Homo sapiens: one gene and its partners. The protein of the gene in region 1 interacts with the protein of each later gene in a pairwise test. Each region holds a gene or a part of one and is shown in the gene's direction. Other genes may lie near its edges. The genes, in order: PAXIP1, TM2D3, FBLN5, DNAJA1, ZNF251, DIS3L and SNX3.

Region 1 (3,500 bases):
AGGCAAAGGCATCTAAACATTGCTTTCCTCTTAAATCATCTTTGTTTAAACAGTTACTGTCTTTCAGTGATTAAAAACTACCTATCTTGTGAAAAGCGAGAGAAAACTTGAGTGAAATATAGTAAGGCTGTTTACCTAAGTGTTTTACTTAGATTTCCACAGGAAATAGTCAAGTTATTTCTGAAATGTGAAATGCCAGCATTCTATACAAACTAGGAACTCAAGAGCCTACTGGATCCCAGCCTTTTAAGTGTGAAATTATCTTTTTCATATCCAAAATTTTCAGTGACTCCTCTTCATGGCAGTAGTTTTGTTTTGTTTTTTGGTATTTGTTAAAACAATTAAAAATAACTTTTTTTCATATTTTACTATTTCAACAGATATCTTTTTAACTTGGAAAAATCATATGTAAACCATATTACATATAGTCATATGTTATTCAAGCAGATGATATTTTTGTATTAATTGGTTCATAAATATTCTGCTGTGTACCTGGACTTCATATTTTCCTAAAATAACTTGGGTTTTTCTGGAATGGGTAGTCCAGAAATTGAAAATCTCTAGTAGAAATTTATCATCTGGGGAGAGCTATATAACATTTTATGCTTTTAAATATTTAAGAACAGCATGATTTTTTAGGGTAAAGAATAAGACATTTTATTGTCGAGGGTATAGGTAAATTGATGTACTCTTACATAGCTGTTGGAAGTGTAATTGGAATAGCCTTTTTGGGAAGGGAAGTGTAGTTAGAGATATGAAGCCTTAAATCTATTCCTTTTCAAACCTCAACACCAAAACCTAGGAATTTGTCATAAAATATAACTGCAGTTTTTCATAGTAGTGAAACACTGGAAACAACCACGTGGCTAACACTGGGGGATGAACTAAGGTACACAGCTGTGCAACCGAAGAGGAAACTGTAAAAGCCTTTGAGACTACTGGGGAGATCTGAATAGGGCCTGAGGATGAGGTGAATCATAGTTCATTGTGCTGCTATGATAATTATGGTGGTTTAGAAAGTCTTTATCAATTTGAGATCCGTAAACAAAGTTCAGGAGAAGCAAGATTTGTAAAAGATTGCCAGTTATTAAAGCTGGGTGACAGATACAAGGGATTTATTCCACTAGTCTCTAATTTGGTCTGCGTTCGAAAATGTACATTAAAAAGTTTGGTCTGCGTTCGAAAATGTACATTAAAAAGTTTGGTCTGTGTTCGAAAATGTACATTAAAAAGTTAAAAACAAAAGCATAAAAGTATACATGTTTTCATAGGAAGAGGTTGTTCACAATATATTAAGTGAAAAAGGAACATTATAAAGTATTTGTTCACTATGACTATATGTTTTTTCCCTTTGCCCTTTTAATATATGTACATATATATTTATAACAAAAATAAATTTAAACTATACCCTAAAAATGTTAATCGTGGTCCTTTCTAGTCAGTGTGATTATGATTACATTCATTTTCCTTTGCTTAGCTTCTTATTCATGGGTGTCTCCCATGACTAGGTTTTTCTTATATTTTAAAAAGGTTTGAGAAAGAACAAACTCACAAACACAAGTTAAGTCACTGAGCTGTGTGCAGAGCTCACTATTTGCAAGGATCTCCCAGATGGGCAATGCCTGGCGTTCGCTGCCAGGACCGAATGACCAACAGCTGTCCTCTCTGTGCTGCTGCCCCGCATCCCTATTGCGTGTGACTCTTATTCCACCCAGAAATTGCAAATGCCACCTTGGGGCTCTGCAACAGGACACGGAGTTTAGTTTAGGGCCCTGATTATGTGTTTGCTAGAGAATTGCTGTTATGTGTTAAGCTTTTAGGAGCACAGCCAAATTTACAACTCATTTATTTTAAGGTTACTTTATTGTCATATTACTCTTATTTAACATTTTTTATTTATTTCCTCTTTCTTTGTTATTCCCTCCCCTGTGCCTTCCACATTCTACACCCTTTACCACAGGAGAGGTCTCTGTTAGCTTGCCGAACATACTACTCCGGACACATCTTTTCCAGTGGGCTGTATTTTCTGCTTTCATTCTAACTGTGCAAATTGTCATCATTTGTGCCCCAGCCAAAGCTCACCTTTCAACGGGGCTTTCCTCCTGCCCTCCAGCTTATGTTGATGAGATTCCCTTCCAGTCTGTTACTGCATCATTCAGCAGTGGTTTTATATTGTATTTGCATTCCGTATTTAATATCTCTTTAGAACCAAATTGTGAGCCTTGTTAGGTCAGAGACTTGTTGCATCCTTTGTGTCTCCATCCCTTAGTGCTGCTTGGCATATAGCATGAGCTCCATAAATACTGGATCTTGAATAGAGCTGTCCTATGCAAGTCAGCCAAGTCAGCCATGCTCCATGAGTGTACGTGATGCATTGGCGGCACTCTGCCACGCTGTTACTTTACTAACTGTCATGGAAAACCAAGCTTCTAAATATTATCAATCAGTAAAAACTTAGGTAGCAATTATTCATTTCATAATTTTCCATAGGATTACTAGCTCTACTTTTGTACTTAAAATATCATTTTAAAAAGTTAATTTTCAGCCAAGTCTTTTAAGACTCCTGCTACAGGTGTGAGACCTTCCTATGATCACTGCTGTATGGTTCCTTTTCACTTTTGCCTCATGTCCTCTGTCTAAAAGATCAAACGTTGCTTCTGTATAAAATTGTAATAATAGTTGCTCAACATTTCAACTGCATTCCTTGACTGAGTTTTTTCTAAAATGCGTAATTGTAGGAAATGTGATAAAATTTACAGCTTTGTTTTGTGTGTGTTTCTGCTTTCCTCGTAGGAGAAATACGAATGTGCTTTAAAGCGAGCAAGTATTAAAATTGTGACTCCTGACTGGGTTCTGGATTGCGTATCAGAGAAAACCAAAAAGGACGAAGCATTTTATCATCCTCGTCTGATTATTTATGAAGAGGAAGAAGAGGAAGAGGAAGAGGAGGAGGAAGTAGAAAATGAGGAACAAGATTCTCAGAATGAGGGTAGTACAGATGAGAAGTCAAGCCCTGCCAGCTCTCAAGAAGGGTCTCCTTCAGGTGACCAGCAGTTTTCACCTAAATCCAACACTGAAAAATCTAAAGGGGAATTAATGTTTGATGATTCTTCAGATTCATCACCGGAAAAACAGGAGAGAAATTTAAACTGGACCCCGGCCGAAGTCCCACAGTTAGCTGCAGCAAAACGCAGGCTGCCTCAGGGAAAGGAGCCTGGGTTGATTAACTTGTGTGCCAATGTCCCACCCGTCCCAGGTAACATTTTGCCCCCTGAGGTCCGGGGTAATTTAATGGCTGCTGGACAAAACCTCCAAAGTTCTGAAAGATCAGAAATGATAGCTACCTGGAGTCCAGCTGTACGGACACTGAGGAATATTACTAATAATGCTGACATTCAGCAGATGAACCGGCCATCAAATGTAGCACATGTAAGTCACTCTTTCCGAAAAAAATGTCAGTATTGGATCTTAGAATTGGATTTCACAGTCTATTTCAATGT
Region 2 (3,500 bases), on another chromosome or scaffold:
TTTAGAAGCCATAAAATAAAGAATTGATACATTTGACTCCTAAAAATTGGAGATTTCTGCATGACCTAAAAAAAAAAGCATAAAGGCAAAAGACATGGCAAACTAGGAAAAAGCGTTTCTAGAATATGTGACAAATAATACAGTAATATCAGTAATATATAAACACTTCCTAAAACCCACACGGAAAAGATGACAGTCTTGTAGAAAAACAGTGTTAGGACATGAGCAGATGGTTCATAGGAAAGGAAATACAAATAGATATATAACATGAAAAACATATAAGTTTTCTCATAGTATTTAATTAATACATTTTTAACCCTTAGATTGGCAATTTTTTTTTAATTTGATTAACTCTGAGTTTGTGAGAGTATAAGGGTCAGATGCTCATATCTTATTAATAGGTAATCAAATTGATCAACCTCTTGTAGGCGATTTGCCATATCTGTTAAACTTACACATGCACACAATCGTTGAGCTCGTAGTTGTACATGTAGGAATTTATGTTATAGATATCATTATACATGGATGCAGATAAGTGTGCTTATTTTTTAGCTGCATTGCTCATTAAAGCAAAAGATTCAAAAGAAGTGAAATGTCTAAGAACTGCTTAATTTATGGTACACGTGTAATAGAATAAACACCTTGTAGCCATTAAAAAGAACTAGGCAGCTCTAGAGGTAATGTACTGATAGATGTCCAAAATTAAGTGAAAGTATTGGGGAACATTAAATGTAGGTGACATAAATGTGCCTATGTGTAGAATCAGCTCTCTCTGGAAGCACAGAGCGTACTTGGCCTGGGGAGGGCAGGGGCTCCCGGCGGCTGGGCCAGACGAGGCCGGCTCACTTCTCACTCTCCTGTTGTGTCTTGACATGTGTTCCATGTACATGTGTCACCTACTTTTTAAAAAACCATTAAAAAAAGTGTGTTTTAAGCACATCACTGAAAATAGGCAGATGTAAACGTATTATTTTGCAGATCCAACTGTTTGCCTAAATCAAGTGATGCCTTACCCATATTTGAATGTTTTCCATAAAAAGTGGTTTTTGCATTGATAAGAAAATGAATAGTACTTGCTTCATCAGCGCATATGCCAAAGTTGGAACCATACAGAGAGAATTAGGATGGCTCTTCTGCAAAAATGACATGCAAATTTGTGAAATGTTAAAAAAAATAACAAACATGGGCCGGGCGTGGTGGCCTACACCTGTAATCCCAGCACTTTGGCAGGCCGAGGCAGGTGAATCACCTGAGGTCAGAGGTTGAGACCAGCCTGGCCAACATGGTGAAACCCCATCTGTACTAAAAATACAAAAATTAGCTGGGCGTGGTGGGGTGCGTCTCTAATCCCAGCTACTCAGGAGGCTGAGGCAGGAGAATCGCTTGAACCTGGGAGGCGGAGGTTGAAGTGAGCCGAGATTGCACCACCGCATTCCAGCCTGGGCGACAGAGCGAGACTCCATCTCAAAAAAAGAAAAAAAAATAATGTGTGTATGTGTATATATATGTATACATATATATACATGATGCTTCCAGAGATGTGTGACCACATAAAAATGATTTTGAAAAATATGCACTGCAATGTAATGTCAGGTAGAGTAAAAAGACTACAAAGTGCTTTCAGTATAATTCCATTTTAGTAAATTTATAAATATACATGTAGAAGAAACGGAAAGAAGATTAAAAGTGGTTAGCTCTGAACACCTATAGGTTTTTGTCTATAATCTTCAAATATGTAACATACAAAGAACATTCTACTTTTGTAAGCAGAATACAAAATAATGGCTTTTAAAATTGAAATGAAAAATTCTCTGGCCACCAGTGAACACTCACTGAGCCTCCACACACCATGTGGTGCTTCTGAGTTGGGCTGCCTCTGGATTAAACATGCCACATGCCCTGGTGGTAGGAGCAGCTGTAACAACCCTGAGTTGCCAGGCTGTGCAAGGTAGGGGATGTTAGGGAAGGTTGGCAACTCGGAAGCAAGGCGGTGTGTTAACCATTACAGAAGCATCAGGCTGGAGTTCAGGGACCTGGATTCCACTCCTCACTTGAAGCTCAGTGACCTTCAACAAATGCATTCATCAGTTCCTTCCAGCCATCCGTGATTGTGACTTTCTAAAATAAATTTTCCTCTTTTCTGCATTATAAAAGTATACGTTTACTATGAAAAATTTAGCTAAGCAAAAGTTATGAAATAATTATATCACCCTGAAATAACCTTTGCTATTTTGATGTGAATTTATCTAGTTTTTTCCCTTAAGTACATATGTTTGGGTGTGTAGTTTTATGATTATGAGGTCACATCATAGGCATTTGTTTTACATACATATTGTTTTGGTAACTGTTTTTCTGGCACTTACTCCTAGGTCCTAAATACAAGCATTTACGGAATTTTGTGCCATGTGACTGTGTAGTCTTACTGACATCTTAACAGACTACACCATTGTGATTGATGAGTTTTGTGTCATTTGCTACATAGGATCAAGACTTCAAATCCCAAAAGAACTTCATCATTAACATGACTTGCAGATTTTGCTGGCAGCTTCCTGAAACAGATTACGAGTGTACCAACTCCACCAGCTGCATGACGGTGTCCTGTCCTCGGCAGCGCTACCCTGCCAACTGCACGGTGCGGGACCACGTCCACTGCTTGGGTAGGTCAGAGTTCAAGGACATTTGTCAACAAAATGTTTTTCTCCAAGTTTATTGAAGGGACTTTAACCAGAAATTTGCGAGTCAAGTTACTTAATTAGAAACATTTATCAGCAGCTCTTTAGATGTGCCAAGCATCATCAATAAACTCAACGTACTAAAGTAAAGCATCCAGAAAATTGCAGTTCTTTTTAAATGTAATATTTGATAAAATAAGAAAAACATTTGAAGTATAAAGCATAATACACAGTAATTGACCTTTACCCAAAATAACAATGAAAGCAGCACCAATACCATTGCGGCCGCCTGAGTGCCTGAGTGCTTGCCTTCACCTGGTTGCCTTTCCTCCTCTTCCAAGGTAACCACCCTTTTGAATTTTTTATTTCACTTCCTTTTAAATTTTTTCTGTAGTTTTATTGTCTATATGTAATAAAATAATATTCAATAATGCATGTTTTAGAACCGTGTAAAATGATTTCAGGCTGTGTGCTCTTCTGGGACTTGCTTATTTCCTAAACATTGTGGCTCTAGGATTCATCCACGTGACTTCTCTTCTTTTTTTTACTTCTGTGTAATAATCTATTGTAAGATTGTATCACAGTTTATTCTCCAATATATTTGGTTAAGTGCTGTTTTCCGCTGTTGTGACTGTTCAAATTTCTTTGCCTGTCTCCCAATGGCACAGGTGCAAGAGCTTCTTCAGCATGTACTTTCCAGCGTGTGTCATTCTTTAAATGGCTGTATTGACTGGCATTCCCACCCGCGCTATGTAACTGTTCCTGATGAGCCATATTCTCTCCAAGAGTGGTTATTCTTAAATTTGGTCTTAAAGTTGTCTAGACTTC
Region 3 (2,892 bases), on another chromosome or scaffold:
GCCTGTATGTGCCAGACACTATTCTAAGTGCTTTCTATACAGTAACCCTTTAATCTTCACAAGAATCCTATGATATAGGATGGTTTTATCGTCCAGATTTTACAGATGAGAGCACTGAGGCACAGAGCTAAGCAACCTGCCCGACTAGTCTCACAACTAATAAGCACCAGGGCAGGATTTGAACCTAAGCAGCCTGGCACCAAAAATCTGTGCTGTTATACTTTTCTTCAGAATGGGGAGGTATGCTTTACCTACTCTTCCAGCTTTGGGGTCTCAGATGAAATGGAGATCACAAGAAAAGTCTAACATCCAGTTACAATAGAAAGTATTCCAGAAATAGCAGTTATGATTGTATAGATACTGTTGTGGCCACTGCTACTGTTGCTGCTACTGCTGCAAGGAGGCTGGGAGCTGCTGGGCCATGGAGAGCTTGGGAATGCTACCCAGGGGACTGGAGCATCGTGTGGGAGGTGGGGCTGGATGGCCATCCAGGCTCTCACACCCTGAGATTCATTGATTTGATTATAACCACATGGGAGGAGCTTCATCTCACCCCGCAGGCAAACCACACACACACACTTGCATGCACACATGCACACACTTATGCCCACATGCGTACGTGTACACACACACACAAGCCCATTCATAAGCCTTATTGGCTGCCTGTCTCTCACTGAGCCCTAGAAAGAGGACTGATGATTGGCTTTGGCCAGGTGGCTTGGGGGTCATAATTAGGGCCAGAAGAAGGAGCAAGGTCATGGGGTTCAGACTGTGCCAAAGTGCACTTACTCCATGACACACGTGGATCAAGTGACAGGGCCCATGGAAGCTGGCCTGCTACAGCGTGGCTGCTTGCCACAGGTCAGACCATGCCATCCCACAAGTTGATTAGAATAAACCTGAGTGTGTTTGGGATCAGGGCCAAGAAGACACACAGCTGGTGGGCTGTTGGCAGCCGACTCCCAGCGTGGTCAAGTCCACTGGCGTTCAGTCATTCGTGTGCATTCTTCCGTTACCAGCGTGCATTCAGCACCACTGCATATGAGGCTTCAAGTCAGGCACTGAGCGTTGAGAAACAAACAGGATGTGGTCTCTGCCCTGGAGGAACCCACACACACCTTAGCGGAGAGGGGGAAAACAACCTAGCAAACACAACACAAAGTGGCGATTCTCAAGTCAAGTCAAGACCCATGGGATGGTGAGTAAATGGAGAGGTACAGAGACCTTATCAGAGAGTGTAGTGGTTAGAAGCATGATTTTTGGAGCCATAAAGTCTAGTACCATGCAGTAGTTTGGTGGCCTTATGTAGTATCCCTAACCTACTTAGAGCATAGGGTTGTGAAGATTAATTAAGAGGTGTAGGAAAGGTTGTAGCCAGATGCCTGGCATCATAACCACCACCGTCATCACTGTCGCCACCATCCTCCTCCTCCTCATCTTTTCGCACCACCAAGCCTACTAATGCCCACGGGCTCTCAGGGGTTTATTTCATTAATGCCCTGGCTCTGCCCTAAAAGCCGAATGTGGAGGTGGCTGTCCTCAGCTCTTGTGGCAGGTACTTGAGCTCTTCCAGGTGCTTGTGGGTAGGGTGGACCCAGGTGGAGGCCGGACTCACCAGCTTCTGCAGTTACTTCCAAATGGGAGAGTCTAGGATTTCAAATGGGATAGTTGAGGATTCTTTCGTACTCAGGAGACATTTACCAGGAGAGCCCAAAGGAACAACTTGGAAGTTTGCACTTGCCCCCTTCTCCCTTCCAGACCTTGGGCTCTGCAGATCTCCCTCTGGAGGGCTGTCCCTAGCTCAGGGTTCTCAACTCTTGGTCTTTGTTCACGCAGTGAAAGCTGGTGAGATATTTGTATATGTAAAGGCTGCAGGCATTTCCTTGTGTGGCTTTACCCTCTGAAGCCCTGGCCCAGGGCTCAGGTTTCGTAAGGGCTGACAAGGAAGTCCAAGAAATCTGCGTGAGGAGGTGCCAATAACGTGGATGCTGACGGGAACAGGAGGAACCAGTGCCAAGAGGAAATTGTGTGGCTGTCAGGCTGCCGATAGCCTCATGGATAGGGGAGGTCCCAGCGCCTGGCCTGCACCTGTCTGCCAGCCCCACCCTTGTCTTACTTGTGGTGGCTCTTGGGGATGTTCAGAACTTTATGGGGCGCCCTCCTTTTATGGAGACAGATAAAACATCTAGTGTAGCTTTAAACCAGCTAGGTTCCTTTATTTTGCAGAGACTGTTGCTTGCAGCTTCTGGGCACAGGGCTGGGCTCTGCAGTGTATGGGAAGTGATTGTCCAGCCCATCCCTTTTCTTCTTCACACTGTTTCCTCTAACAGTGCCAATATCTGTCCCTTGCACTGACCGCGAGCATCTCTCATTAGGTGGGTGCTAGGAAGAAGTGAAACACACATCAGCCTCTTCTGATACCTGCTGTGCAGTGAAAAAAGCCTGGGGCTTGGGGTCAGAAATACCTGAATGGAAGCCCTTGGTTCTGCCCAAGACTAGCTGGGTAACCCTAAGCAATTATTTAACCTCATGGGACCTCAGTTTGCTTACTTATAAAACGGGGAAGTAATGAGTCATACCTTTCATACAGCACTTAGACAAGGACAGCCAGGGCCCCCCCACCTGGGTCCTGTGCTTTTAGATCAATATTTCTCAATACTTAATGTGCACACAAAGCCCTGGGGATTGTGTTAAGCCACAGATTCTGGCTCAGTAGATCCTAGCCCTGAGATTCTGCATTTATAAGAAGCTCCCTGGTGATGCCCATGCTGCTGGTCCAGGGACCACACTTTGAGTGGCAAGGCCTTTCAGGGTTTTATGAGAATTTTTTTTTTTTTTTTTAGCTGGAGTCTCGCCGTTGTCCAGGGTGGAGTATAGTGGTGCGATCTCTAT
Region 4 (3,500 bases), on another chromosome or scaffold:
CTTTATTGTGTCAAAATTATGTATTTAATATGTTTATCAGGAAAGTGGCCTATGGGCTCTAGAAATACTGCTTATAGGAGTAAAATGTTCAAGAGAAATCAGTCTCACTTTATTTCCAGTATAGTGTATACAAATAAGGGCTGATGAGCAGAACCAGTTTTAGAATGAATGGCCAAGCCATTAAATTTCACTTTGAGCTTCTTAAGGTTCAGAAAGATTTGGGAAATTGTTTATTCAGTTTTTCTTTAAAGATCTTCAAGGAAAGGATTATGTTTTTATTAAGATACTTAAACTCCTTAAAAAGAAAGTCCACAATCCAAATGACTTGCTTAGTAAATTGTTAGAATTTGTCCACAAAAAAGTAGTGGTGGTTTTTCACTTACCTTACAAAGAACCTGCAGGTTAACATTGGCAAGCTCTTTTATGTGGCTTATGATCATATTGAGAGGTTATTTCTGGGGAAATGCGCTTCATCAAGCTCTAGAAGCTTTATTTTTCCTTCCTTATACTCAACACTGTTCAAAATAAGGGCAGCTAGATTTTAGCGTGCCAAAACTAAAGGTGGAACTATAAGCAGAAGGACATAATTAATGGTATTTCATGCTTGATTAGAAAGTTAAAATGTTCATTAGGCATATTGTACAGAAACGAGTTTGAGAACTTTTTTCAGTTGGTGGAAAGGCAATAATATTGTTGTGAATAAGTCCTTGTGGAAGGACCACTAGTTAGGAACTTACTAACTTACTAGCAGGTGACTTCATACTTCTAACCTCAGTGTCCTTATGAGATCTTGACCTTCCATTTCCTATTCTGATTTAAGTGAAGTAAGGCACTCCTTAGTAGCCACTGGCCATGTGTGGCTCCATTAATTTAAGACAAAAACAAAAATACGGTTTCTTAGTCTAAATGGCCACATTTACATGCTCAATAAGCACATGTGATTGGTGGCTGCTACGTTGGACAGAACAGATATAAAACATTTATCACTGCAGAAAGTTCTGTTGGGCAATGCTATTATAAAAGGTATGAGAAATTTGGCCTTCAAAACAACCAGTGCTGGCCCAGCAGTAAATGGGCTGTTTTCTACTAAATCAGGAAGAAGTAGAAATTGATACTCTTCTGTGGTGACTCAATAAATACATCAGCTTCCCTGGCCAATCTTGATTAATGAGAATTTACTGTGCTACAGAATTTTTGGATGAAGTAATTGGCCATGTTGCTCAATACGGTACGAAGTGAAAGCTTCAAAAAATATATTGTGACAGAAATGAATGTTTGGATTATTGTGAAATGTGCCCTTTTAAATAACATTGGTTTTTCTCAAGTGACTTTGAAGGTAATGCTTTTGCTTACCATATTTCCAAGATGGCCACGTCTGTGCCCTTAAGCAAATATTTAATCTCTGACCTGATTTTCCCTCATCTGTGATTACATCACAGTTTGAGGATCATCTGTGATAACGTGAACATTCTGTGTATATAGTAGGTAGTCAACAGATGTACCCTGTGAGGCTCATCTTTTATTATTCTTTGCCACATTCTTTATAGTGCCTTTAGCACAAATAAGATCCAGCATCTTAAACAGATTTGCAATGAGAAATATTTTGTTTTAGGTAAAAATGTTGTACATCAGCTCTCAGTAACCCTAGAAGACTTATATAATGGTGCAACAAGAAAACTGGCTCTGCAAAAGAATGTGATTTGTGACAAATGTGAAGGTACGGTGTTTTTTTGTTTTGTTTTGTTTTGTTTTTAAGCACCTTTAATATGACACCTGAAAATGGAGCTAAGACTTCTAGATAGATATGTAAAATTGATTCATGTACACTACCTAGATTTTGGGGGAGGAGAGGGCAGATATGAAGAAAACCAACTGAAAACCTCCCACCTAAAGAAATATCAGCACTTTTTTCTGTGTATATTTTAAATACAGTTGGGATCAAGCTAGTTTGGTATCTTTTTTGTAATAAGTAAAATTTATTGGAAAGTGTGTTCTAATAAGAATGAAACTCATTGGAATGATCTCATCAGTTGTACATTCAGAGGGTAGCATTCCATCAGGCTTCGAAAATATTAAAAGTATAGCATTTAGGAATTGTCTTCTTAAAACATTTACTACTGTATACACTACTAATTCATACATTATTTAATTTTCTTTTTAAATTTAGGTAGAGGAGGTAAGAAAGGAGCAGTAGAGTGCTGTCCCAATTGCCGAGGTACTGGAATGCAAATAAGAATTCATCAGATAGGACCTGGAATGGTTCAGCAAATTCAGTCTGTGTGCATGGAGTGCCAGGGCCATGGGGAGCGGATCAGTCCTAAAGATAGATGTAAAAGCTGCAACGGAAGGAAGATAGTTCGAGAGAAGAAAATTTTAGAAGTTCATATTGACAAAGGTGAGTTCTGAGTTACTTATTCTGAAGTCTTGAATGCTGTGGCAGATTTATTATTAACATTTTATAATTGTTTAAAAATCATTCTTAATTAGGTTATATATGATCCTATCAATCAGAAATAACTCTTAGCAGCTTAGTAAATAATGTTCTTTTATCCAGACATAATTTTGCACATTGGTATATTACTAATACAGAATATATTAGGAATCTCCTCATTTAATATAACAGGATCATCTTTTGAAATCTGTGGTCCTGTAAATGATTGAATAGTGTTCCAAACTTAATTCTCTCCTGTTAAACCATAGTTCTTCCATCTTTTAAAACATTAGAATTGTACACATTCTTAATTAGGAGTTACTAGATCAAGGGATAGGCATACTTTTAAGGATTTGAAAGGGGAGTTAGGTGAAGAATTGGGTCTCATAAAAATTCATGGTTTTTTTGGAGACGGAGTTTCGCTCTTGTTTCCCAGGCTGGAGTGTGCAATGGCACGATCTCAGCTCATTGCAACCTCTGCCTCCCGGGTTCAAGCAGTTCTTCTGCCTCAGCCTCCCAAGTACCTGGGATTACAGGCACCCAGCACCATGCCCGGCTAATGTTTTGTATTTTTAGTAGAGACGGGGTTTCACCATGTTGGCCAGGCTGATCTCGAACACTTGACCTCAGGTGATGACCTGCCTCGGCCTCCCAAAGTGCTGGGATTACAGGCATGAGCTACCGCACCCCGCCTCATGTTTATTTTTTAAACCAATGGGCATGTTTTTGTTTGTTTGTTTTTTTCTGAGGTAGAGTCTTGCTCTGTTGCCCAGGCTTGAGTGCAGTGATGCGATCTTGGCTCACTCTAACCTCTGCCTCCTGGGTTCAAGCGATTCTCCTGCCCCAGCTTCCCAGGTAGCTGGGACTACAGGTGTGCACCACCACACCTGGCTAATTTTTTTTGTATTTTTAGTAGAGATGGGGTTTCACCATGTTAGGCTGGTCTCAAACTCTTGACCTCAAATGATCTGCCTGCCTTGGCCTCCTAAAATGCTGGGATTACAGGTGTGTGCCACCATACCTGGCCTGGGCTAGTTTAAATAAGCGTATTGGCCCACTTAATTGGCTT
Region 5 (3,500 bases), on another chromosome or scaffold:
CACCACATCCAGCTCTTTTTTTATTTTTGTAGAGATCAGGTCTCACTATTTTGCCCAGGTTGGTCTCAAACTCTTGAGCCTCAAGCAGTCCTCCTGCTTTGGCCTCCTAAAGCACTGGTATTACAGGCCACAGTGCCTGGCCCCAACTGTGTTTTCTATAAGGAACCTGCTTCGGCCAGGAGTGATGGCTCCTGTAATTCCAGCACTTTGGGAGGCCGAGGTGGGAGGATCCCTTGAGCCTGGGAGTTTGAGACCAGCCTAAACAACATAGTGAGAAATCATCTCATCAAAAAGTTAAAAAAATTAGCTTGGTGTGGTGTTGTGTACCTATAAGTCTCAGCTACTCAAGAGGCTGATGTGGTAGGATCGCTTGAGCCCAGGAAGTTGAGGTTGTAGTGAGCTGTGATTGCACCACTGCTCTGCAGCCTGGGCAACAGAGCAAGACCCCATTGCAAAGAAAAAAGAAACCTGCTGTCTCATGACAAGATCTTGCCATGAACAAAAAAAAAGAAAAGAAGCCCACTTTAAACATAAAAACACAAAAGGGATGGAGAAAGATAGTAATCCAAAGAAAGCGGAAATATCTTACTACTTTAGACACAAAACATAACAGATCTTGAGGTGTATGGGCCTAACAACAGCATCAAAATATGTGAGGTTGGCCAGGCACAGTGGCTAACACCTGTAATCCCAGCACTGGGAGGCCGAGGCGGGCAGATAACTTGAGGTCAGGAGTTCAAGACTAGCCTGGCCAACATGATGAAACCCCATCTCTACTAAAAACACAAAAATTAGCCAGGCATGGTGGAGTGCACCTGTAATCCCCCCTACTCAAGAGACTAAGACAGGAGAATCACTTGAACCTGGGAGATGGAGGTTGCAGTGAGCCAAGATTGCACCATTGCACTGCAGCCTGGGCGACAGAGTGAGACTCCATCTCAAAAAAAAAAAGTGAGGTTGTCAAGTGTGGTAGTCATGCCTGTAATCCCAGCACTCTGGAAGGCCAGGAAGGGCAGATCGCTTGAGCCCAGGACATTGAAGCTGCGGTGAGCTATGATCACGTCACTGCGCTCCAGGCTGGGCAACTGAGTGAGACACTATCTCTAAAAACCACAAAACCAGCTGGACACGGTGGCTCACGCCTGTAATCCCAGCACTTTGGGAGGCCGAGGCGGGTGGATCACCTGAGGTCAGGAGTTCGAGACCAGCCTGACCAACATGGAGAAACCCCATCTCTACTAAAAATACAAAATTAGCCGGGCGTGGTGGCTCATGCCTGTAATCTCAGCTACTCGGGAGGCTGAGGCAGGAGAATTGCTTGAACCCAGGAGGCAGAGGTTGCAGTCAGCCGAGATTCGCGCCATCGCACTCCAGCCTGGGCAACAGAGCGAGACTCCGTCTCAAAAAACAACAACAACAAAATATGTGATGCGAAAACTGATAGAACTACAAGGGGAAATAGATGAGTTCACTGTCTGCAGTTGGAGATCCAGCACCCTCTATCGTAAATGGACAGATCCAGCAGGATGCAGTTGAGTTTAACAGCACCATCACATCAGTCAGCTGGGAATAATTTACATCTGTAGACTGCTTCATCCAACGATAGCAGAATGCACATTCCTGCCAAGCTCATGTGGAACATTCACTAAGATAGACCACATTCTGGGCCACAAAACACTTTAACATACTTGAAGAATAGAAAACATAGAATGTCTATTCTCAGACCACAATGACATGAAACTAGAAATGAAACCAGAAAGATAGCTAGAAAATCCTAAAGTACTTGGCAAATAACACACTTCCAAATAACACGAGTCAAAGAAGATATCTCAAGATAAATTTTAGAATATTTTGAATTAAGTGAAAATGAAAATAAAACTTACCAAAATTTGTGGAATGCTGTGAATGCAGTGCTTAGAGGGAAATTTATAGCATTGACTGCATGTATTAGAAAATGGGAAAGATCTAAAATCATAATGTAAGCTTTCACTCTAGGAAACTAGAAAAAGAAGAGCAAATTAAATACAAAGTAAGCAGAAGAAAAGAAATAAAAATTCAAGCAGAAATCAATGAAATGGAAAACAGGAAATCAATAGAGAAAATCAACGAAACCAGAAGATGGTTTGAAAAAACAATAAAATCAGTAAACCTTTAGCCAGACTAAGACAAAGAAGAGAGAGGACACAAAATACTAATATCAAATGAAAGAGGGAACATCACTACAGAGATGTCCCACAGACTTTTAAAGGGTAATAAAAAAAAAAAGATGAACAACTCTGTGCCCAAATTTGATAAATGAACCAATTCCTTGAAGTACACAATCTCCCAAACACGGGAAGAAATAGACAATCTGAATAGGGCTATGTCTGTTAAATAAGTCAAATCAACAATTACCTTCCAAAATAGAATCCACTGGGCTCAGATGGGTTCACTTATGACTTCTACCAAACATTTAAGGAAGAAATTATACCAGTTCTCTATAATCTCTTCCAGAAAATAAAAACAGAGGGAATACTTCCTAACTCATATGAGGTCAGTGTTATCCACCCAAATGCCAAAACCAAACAGACATTACAAGAAAAGGAAACTACAGACAGACACCTCTTATGAACATAAATGCAAAAATCCCAACAAAATATTAGCAAATCAAATCCAACAATGTATAAAAAGAATTATATACCATGACCAAGTGGGATTTGTCCCAGGTTTACAAGGCTGGTCCAACATTAGGAAATAAATTAATGTAATGTGATGTACCACATCAACAGGCTGAAGAAAGATCATGTGGTCATATCAGTAGATGCGGAGAAAGCATTTGACAAAATCCAACCTCGATTCATGATTACAAATTCAACAAACTAGGAATAGAGAGGAACTTCCTCAAGTTGATAGAGAGCATCTACAGAAAATCTACATTTTCCTTTATACTGGCAACGAAGAAGTGGAATTTGAAGTTAAAAACACATTATTTACATTAGCACCACTAAAGATAAAATACTGAGGTGTAAGTCTAACAAAATATGTACAAAATCTGTGAGGAAAAATACAAGACTGATAAAAATATATCAAAGAAGAGCTAAATAAATGAAGAGATAGTCTGTTCATGAGGAAAACTCAGTATTATCATGATGTCAGTCCTCTGCTTGATTTACAGATTCAACACAATCTCAATCACAGTCTCAGGGGCTAAGTGTGGTGGTTTATGCCTATAATCCAGCACTTTGGGAGGCTAAGGCAGGAGGATCGCTTAAGCCCAGGAGTTTAAGACCAGCCTAGGCAACATAGTGAGACCCCATATCTACAAAAAAATTTTTTTTGTTAGCTAGGCCTGGTGGCATGTGCCTATATTCCCAGCTATTTGGGAGGCTGAGGTGGGAGGACTGCTTGAGCCTAGGAGTCTGAGGTTTCAGTAAGTTATGATCATGCCACTGTATTCCAGCCTGGCTGACAGAGCAAGACCCTGTCTCTAAAAAACGAAAAAAACTCAGCAGGTTATTCTG
Region 6 (3,977 bases), on another chromosome or scaffold:
GGATTCTATCCCATCAAGGGTGTGTGATCTCAGAAGAGACTGTGTGCATCTCTTTATCAAGAGCTACAGGCTGGGCGTGGTGGCTTACGCCTGTAATCCCAGCACTTTGGGAGGCTGAGGTGGGAGAATCACTTGAGCCCAGGAGTTTGAGACCAGCCTGGGTAACATAGTGAGACACTCCCATCTCTACAAAAAAAAAGAAAAGAAAAGAAAAGAAAAAAACGCTAGGCGTGGTGGAGAAGATCGTTTGTGCCCAGAAGTTCGGGGGCTGCAGTGAGCCATGATCATGCACTATACTCCAGCATGAGTGACACAGCAAGACCCTGTCCAAAAAAAAAAAAAAAATTAATACAAACATGTACGTTTGTGATTGTGTCACAGTGGCAGTTTAAAGGAGAAATCCTTTGCCAGAGGCTGCAAAAGCTATAAAAGTTGGAGTGGAACAGTGCTTCAAGGGAAGAGATTGGTTTTCATTTTATCTGCATTGTTTGATTATATAAGTACATGATAACTTCAATAGGGATACCAAAACAAATAAATAAATTTTAAAAAGAACATGAAAGGCCAGGCGCAGCAGCTCACACCTATAATCCCAACACTTTGGGAGGCCGAAGCAGGTGGATCGCCTGAGACCAGCCGGGCCAACAGAGCAAGACCTGCCCCCCTCACCCTCCCATCTCTACAAAAAAAGAAAAAAACTTTAAAAAAAGTACATGTAATTTTAAATGAATATAACTTTTTAGAAATGTTCGGCTGGCAGGGTTGCCGGCTTATGTGCTGAGTCTTTTACCTCGTTTGGAGATAGCGAGAGCAACGAAGAGAAAACATTAATTACCCGGTATTAGTATTAATACGGCGGCTCCATTCCCACATGGACCTGGGGGGGACAAACAAAGTCTCCTAATCTTGGACAGCTGCGCCCAGCCCTTCTTCACCTGCCGTCCAGGTATCATCCTAGTCTTCCCTCCGTCTCTGGGGTAGGTCGTTTCCACCCCTCCGCCCTGGTCCAGGCCACTGAGGGAAGGGAAGAAACTAAGGCCGGGAGGGCCGGGCCCCAGCCTGGAGCGTGTAGCTCCGGGCCTCCCCCGGGCGCGGCAGTTACGGCGGTTCCGGAGCCGCGGCGCCTAGGGCCGAGGGGCGGGTCCGAGGCCGCGGCCTTGCCTCCGCCGCGCCCGCCACTCCGCGGCCGCCGGGAGACACGCCGCCATGCTGCAGAAGCGGGAGAAGGTGCTGCTGCTGAGGACCTTCCAGGGCCGCACGCTGCGGATCGTGCGCGAGCACTACCTGCGGCCCTGCGTGCCCTGCCACAGCCCGCTCTGCCCGCAGCCCGCCGCCTGCAGCCACGGTCAGGGCCGGGGCGGGGGCGGGGACGGGGCCGGCGGGAGCGGGCGGCCGCAGTGAGGGGCTGAGCGCGGCCGGGAGGCGGAGCGCCAGCGGCGGGGACACGGAGGCGTAGGCCCCGCGGCCTGCGCCCGCTCGCCGGCCTCACCCCCCGGCTCTCTGCCGGTGGGGACCCAGCGGCCCGGGTCCGCGGCTTCTGGGGCGCCCGGGACTCCCTTACTGCTCCGCCCTGTCCAATGGGAGGGCCCGACAGACCCGCACCCCATGCCGGAGGCCGGGTGGTTTGGCTCCTCAGAGGGGCCTGAGGGCGCGGAAGCCGAGGCCTCCTCCCGCCGCAACCTCGCGCCGTGGAGAAATGGGGAGGTCCCGAGCTGGGAGCCCCCGGGAGCTACAGGCCAGCTGCTGCCGCTGCGAAGCTGACATCGCCTGCTTTGCAGCCACAGGTTTCCTGACCTGCCCGCACTGTTGCCCCAGACTTTTCCCCCAGTGGAGAGCCACTTCACCGTAGATTTGTGAACTCTCTGGGCCCGCACTGGAGCGGAAGGTCACGGGGAAGTTGGACTGGGGACTCCTGGGCCCCAGTCCTTGGTTTCTAGGCCACAAGGGTGGCCGATAGAACGATGCACGTTACTGGCTCTCTTCCCCCATGGGAGGATGAGAATGGGCTGGGGGTCCTTGTCAGCGAATGTGTGGAATCCTCCAAACATTGTGATTAAGGTGAACATTTCAGTTAGAGCTTGGCTAACCAGCTCTCAGATGCAGGTCTGGTGGGAAACCTCACCTCTGCACGTTGCTTGCACGGAGCATTTTCTCTGTTCAATCTTTCTGGCCCTTGGAGGCTGCTGAGCACGTGCAGAAGCTTGACACAGAGCCAACTTTAAATTGCTGGGCATCATACACAAGTGGTATAAATGTGGGGGTGCTTCATTTGAATGTGTTTGTCAATGATGAGTTAACACTGAAATATTCAGGTTATGCTGAAAATGTGCTTGTTCGTTGTTAAATCAGCCATCCTCTCCGGCACCTCTGGCAACACCATAAACCACGTTGAGCTTGTATTTATCACAGCTTCCAAAAAAATGAGGGTGCTCAATATACCTGAACTTTGGGCCTCTACCAAAGTAGATTTGTCTTTTAAAAACTCCCACCATGGAGTTAAGACTGGAAGTTATTTTGCATGCCAGAGCACCGTGACATTTAAATAAACCAGGTTTGAAAACATTGTCTAATCTCTTACATTTTGAATTATGTTTCAGATGGGAAACTCTTGTCTAGTGATGTGACTCATTACGTGATCCCAGACTGGAAAGTTGTTCAAGATTATCTTGAGATCCTTGAGTTTCCTGAGTTGAAGGGAATTATTTTCATGCAGACAGCTTGTCAAGCTGTGCAGCATCAAAGAGGCAGGAGGTATACGTTTTGCATTCTTTATTTCTATATGGCATAGGTTCCCCCCACCTTAGAAAAGGTCCCTTGTCGGAGGGGGATGGGAGGAATTCATTATTTTGTCAGAAGGGACTTTTAAAACTAATTTCGTATTCTCTTTGATAGTGAGGAATGCAGTAACATTATTTTATATTTCTGCTTCAACACCTGGCCAAGAGATCTGACTGTAGATTAGTAAACTGCAGTGTCCCCAGTATGTGGGTATTTAAGATTCTAGTGTGAATTGTCTTTTGGCTTGCATTTTTATAGTGGCAGGGTTATTGCTTATTTCTTGTTGATAATGTGTATTATTTAATCTTATTTATAGATACATTGTTTCAGAAGCATACGTTCTTTTCTTGGGGAAAAGAGTACTTTATTTTTAAATTTTAGACTCTTTTATTGGGGATGCAAATTGTACTTGTAATGATTTATTCAATGAAACCAGAAATAGCTTGTTTTATTTTTAGATTACTAGTGTAACTACCAGCCATAGTCATTGTATTTGCTAAACAAAGGCTTTCTAATTGAACAAGTCTAAAATTCTTGCCTAGTACTTAAATGAAGAATAGCTGTCTACCTTTTAAACAAATACTTTGAAAAACGATTTTGCTTCCTTTAATGTTGGGAAAGGTTTATGACTTGAACTTAAAACTGTATGGAAATAGCATATTAGAATTATACGTCCAACCTTTTAACACTCTAAGTTATTTAATAAGCACCAACTATGCATTTATTCTTTTTTAAAATGTTGTGGTTTCTTCAGGCCTTAGTGATAAAAGATGAAGTGTTTTTATTTGTATATGAAAATGGCAAAAAATTGTCCTCTTATTATATGCTCAGTTCAAAAAACATACATTAACCAGATTGTGTGCAGGTTTTTTCAGATAGAATATTTTTAAATGATCTTCAAGTTGATTTTGTTCAGACACCAAGATATAGATGTTTATACACATCCAAATTTAAATGCTGCTCCAGGTGTCATATTTCAGTTTCTGCTACTAAAATCAATTTGTTGTTATCATTCAGATTGCTAACACACTGCGAGCCTTTTCAACTTCTGTTTTCTGAAATATTTTTAATGTTAAGGATTGTTTTAGAAACCAGTTCCTGGGACATTCAAAGACAAAGAGTTGGAATTTAAACGTTTTTTTCTCCTGAACATTTCAAGAGTAGTTAACTTGATGAAAAACTATTGGTTTTCCACTGCC
Region 7 (3,500 bases), on another chromosome or scaffold:
TGAAAACCTAATTGAGTTTTTAATGCATGAAATGACTTTGGATTTCTTTCTTTTTTTATTTTTATTTTTATTCTTTTTGAGACAGAGCCTTGCTCTGTCGCCAGGCTGGAGTGCAGTGGCGCGATCTTGGCTCACTGCAACCTCTGCCTTCCGAGTTCAAGCGATTCTCCTGCCTCAGCCGCCCAAGTAGCTGGGACTACAGGCACGCGCCACCACGCCCAGCTAATTTTTGTATTTTTAGTGGAGACGGGGTTTCACCATGTTGACCAGGATGGTCTCAGTCCCTTGACCTCATGATCTGCCTACCTTGGCCTCCCAAAGTGCTGAGATTACAGGCGTGAGCCACCATGCCCAGCCTGGATTTCTTTTAGTATGTAATGTGTTAACTTAAAACTAAGGACACCATATAGTAAGGAAATTAGGCCTTATTTGAGCAGCATATGATTTTTTAGAGTAATTATAGTCTTGCATTAAGGCAGAGTGGCTATGACATGAATAGTTTAATATTTTGTAATTTTTTTCTTCTTGAGATAAGAGTCTCGTTCTGTAGCCCAGGCTGGAACACAGTGGCATGATTGTGGCTCACTGCATTCTCAAACTCGAGGACTCAAGTATTCCCCCCGCCTCAGCCTCCCAAGTAGCTGGACTACAGGGTACTACTATACCTGGCTAATTTTTTATTTTTTGTCAGATGAGACTTGCTATGTTGCCCATGATGGTCTTGAACTCCTGGCCTCAAGTGGCCCTCCCCCTCTCAGTCTCCCAAAGTGTTGGAATTACAGGCATGAGCCACCTCACCCAGCCCTGCAATTTTATTTATTATTTTCTAAATGTTGCTGCTCTCCCGAACCCCTACTGACTACCTTTTGCTGTTGAATTTGCTATGTGGAAAACCATTTTATGTTCCAGAATTTGGGCTTTTAAACTATCTTACAGTTACTGTCTCATTCTGGTCTTGAGAAAAATTTACAGTTTTACAGGATCTGATTGAAATTACTCTAATTCACAGGGCAATTTTATATGGATGGTGGCACTTAGAATGCAAGTTTCCCAATCTCCATTTATCTTTTGGTTTGAGGATAGTGTTTAAGACTATTAGGATCACTTGATTAGTATCTCTGGGCTTTTGAAAATAATTACACAGTGTTATGTTTTTAAAAATTGTTCTAATGGGTAGGTACAGCAGAGAGCACCATAAATGATTAAAGGTTTAGGAAAGTTCAAGGTCTGGAATTATTTAGGCATATTCAAGAGAAGGCTGAAAGCAAAATTCAGTCACTGTTTATGAAGTTTGTGCTGTAATATAACTTTAATATTCTGGAGATTTTTAAGTTAATCAAGATCTATTTTACCTGGAGACCACTGTTTTGAACAGGAATGGAATTAGAATCTTTCTTGAGCTCTGACATAGTCCTCAGTTCAAAGAATAGATTTAACATTTCCTAGCTGGGTAAGATACAAAATCAAAGCTCCACTTCCCCTCTGTGAAATAGGTGTGCTAATAATAGTACCTACCTCTTAGGACTAAATGGGATAAGGCACATGAATCTTTCTAGCACAGTGCCTGGCACATAATAAGCACGCAAAATTTAGCTCTTTCTAAAGATAGACATTTTCTAAATTAAACGTCAGTGATCAACTACATTTTCTGTGTGTTAATGTTTAGTTGAGTTACTAAAATTGTTAGATTTTCTTGTCAAGAAACCTACTTGTCATGGAAGTATACCTTCATTAAGCAAGCATGGTATAAAAATAAGCTATCTTATTTGGTACTTAACCAAGTAACCTTTGTGTATGTATTTATTTTTTCGAGACAGGGTCTCCCTCTGTCTCTCAGCCTAGAGTGCAGTGGTGCAGTCACAGCTCACTGAAGCCTTGACCTCCCAGGCTCAAGTGATCCTCCCAACCTCAGCCTCTCTACTAGCTGGGACCACAGGCGCATACCACCACACCCAGCTAATTTTTAAATTATTTGTAGAGACGAGATCTCACTATGTTGCCCAGGCTGCTCTTGAACTCCTGGGCTCAAGTGATACTCCCACCTCAGCCTCCAAAACTGCTAGGATTATAGGTGTGAGCCACCATGCCAGGCTCCAAATAATCTTTTAAAGTTGAGCTTTATTAAAGCATAAAGCTGAATAATAACGTTGGCTGATAAAAATTTTGACAAGGTGCTAAATAAATGTAGCATCTTATCTTGACAGTGCTTGCCGTTCTAAACTTGTATATGTTTTTTCCTCTGGGTCAGTCATCTAATCTTAAATTAGGAGTCATTAATATCCAGATTGGAAGCTGAGAAATAAATTTTAAAATCTTAGACTTATTTTTGGGAATTATAAACATGTATTATTGAAGGGCTAAAATATTAATAGTATTTTAAAGAATCGGGGGGTCGGGCACGGTGGCTCCTGTATGTAATCCCAGCACTTGGGAGGCCAAGGTGGGAGGACTACTTGAGCTCAGGCGTTGCCACACAGCCTGGGCAACGCAGTGAGACCCTGTCCCTACAAAAATTTAAAAATTAGCCAGGCATGGTGGCGTGTGCCTGTAGTCCCAGCTATGTGGGAGGCTGAAGTGGGAGGATTTCTTGAGCCCAGGAGGAGGTCAACACTGCAGTGAGCCACGATCATACCACCGCACTCTAACCTGGGTGACACAGTGAGACCCTGCCTCTAAAAAAAGCAAAGCAAAGAAAAAAAAATCAGGGCATTTTGATGCCAGAGGACATCTGCAGAATCTATGTAGCTCTATCAATTGGCCAATGAGATGTTGTCTGTTACACATGTTGCTGCCAGCTACGGCTGACTTTTCCAGGATCTCCATCAAGGAGAAGCATGCTATTAGCAGTGAAGATTCTGTCCTTATCTAATCCATCCCCAGAATGGAGAGTGGGGGAGGAAGACAGTGGCTATTTTAAAGTAGTCCTGTTATATTGAGTTTTTAGGGATTCTGTTCTGTTAAGGGATGTATCATTTGAGTATCTTTTATGTGCAAAGCACTGTGCTCTATCTATAAAATTTAATCTTGAGGTAACCAAGCAGAGTAGATAATATTCCTGTAGAAGCTGATCAACTGATCCTCATCTCTTGTCCTTTCCTCATTTTAACTCCAGTCCTGAACTGGTATCTCCCAATTAAGCTGAGTTCTTTTGTATCCAGGCCTTTTGCACACACTTCCTCCTCTGTTAAGAACAGGCTTCCTTTAAGAGCCTCATCTGGTTACTATCACTTATCCTGCAGGACTCAGCCTTAATGTCCCCTTTTTAAAGATTTTGCTGATCCCTTGACTCTGGACCAGATTTCCTTCCTGTGTGCCCTGGTAGCTTTGTTAGGAATAAATTTGTTTGCTTGTCTTTGGCTTCCTGTAAGTTCCTGTGTCACCCATTATAAGCTCTTAGAGGACAGGGACTGTCATAATCACCCTTACTCAATATCCAACACTGCTTGGCACATAGTGGACACTTACAAATAAATGAAGTTTAAGAAAGTTAACTTCCCCAG

The links.
Region 2: the proteins of PAXIP1 (region 1) and TM2D3 interact in a two-hybrid assay, tested with the Homo sapiens proteins (one large-scale study listed by BioGRID).
Region 3: the proteins of PAXIP1 (region 1) and FBLN5 interact in a two-hybrid assay, tested with the Homo sapiens proteins (one large-scale study listed by BioGRID).
Region 4: the proteins of PAXIP1 (region 1) and DNAJA1 interact in a two-hybrid assay, tested with the Homo sapiens proteins (one large-scale study listed by BioGRID).
Region 5: the proteins of PAXIP1 (region 1) and ZNF251 interact in a two-hybrid assay, tested with the Homo sapiens proteins (one large-scale study listed by BioGRID).
Region 6: the proteins of PAXIP1 (region 1) and DIS3L interact in a two-hybrid assay, tested with the Homo sapiens proteins (one large-scale study listed by BioGRID).
Region 7: the proteins of PAXIP1 (region 1) and SNX3 interact in a two-hybrid assay, tested with the Homo sapiens proteins (one large-scale study listed by BioGRID).

What each region holds. Positions count from the first base shown.
Region 1 is NC_000007.14:154,975,625-154,979,124, reverse strand, and holds part of PAXIP1 (PAX-interacting protein 1), read left to right. Parts: intron 1-2,793; coding exon 2,794-3,429; intron 3,430-3,500.
Region 2 is NC_000015.10:101,645,882-101,649,381, reverse strand, and holds part of TM2D3 (TM2 domain-containing protein 3 isoform a precursor), read left to right. Parts: intron 1-2,482; coding exon 2,483-2,657; intron 2,658-3,500. UniProt on the Homo sapiens protein: Probable positive regulator of Notch signaling.
Region 3 is NC_000014.9:91,871,803-91,874,694, reverse strand, and holds part of FBLN5 (fibulin-5 isoform 1 precursor), read left to right. Parts: intron 1-1,019; coding exon of another isoform or gene 1,020-1,198; intron 1,199-2,892. UniProt on the Homo sapiens protein: Essential for elastic fiber formation, is involved in the assembly of continuous elastin (ELN) polymer and promotes the interaction of microfibrils and ELN. Stabilizes and organizes elastic fibers in the skin, lung and vasculature.
Region 4 is NC_000009.12:33,028,273-33,031,772, forward strand, and holds part of DNAJA1 (dnaJ homolog subfamily A member 1), read left to right. Parts: intron 1-1,612; coding exon 1,613-1,717; intron 1,718-2,167; coding exon 2,168-2,395; intron 2,396-3,500.
Region 5 is NC_000008.11:144,745,532-144,749,031, reverse strand, and holds part of ZNF251 (zinc finger protein 251), read left to right. Parts: intron 1-3,500. UniProt on the Homo sapiens protein: May be involved in transcriptional regulation.
Region 6 is NC_000015.10:66,292,391-66,296,367, forward strand, and holds the start of DIS3L (DIS3-like exonuclease 1), read left to right. Parts: upstream 1-1,177; 5' UTR 1,178-1,206; coding exon 1,207-1,345; intron 1,346-1,424; exon of another isoform or gene 1,425-1,696; coding exon of another isoform or gene 1,697-1,784; exon of another isoform or gene 1,785-2,058; intron 2,059-2,597; coding exon 2,598-2,751; intron 2,752-3,977. UniProt on the Homo sapiens protein: Catalytic component of the RNA exosome complex which has 3'->5' exoribonuclease activity and participates in a multitude of cellular RNA processing and degradation events.
Region 7 is NC_000006.12:108,254,541-108,258,040, reverse strand, and holds part of SNX3 (sorting nexin-3), read left to right. Parts: intron 1-3,500. UniProt on the Homo sapiens protein: Phosphoinositide-binding protein required for multivesicular body formation. Specifically binds phosphatidylinositol 3-phosphate (PtdIns(P3)).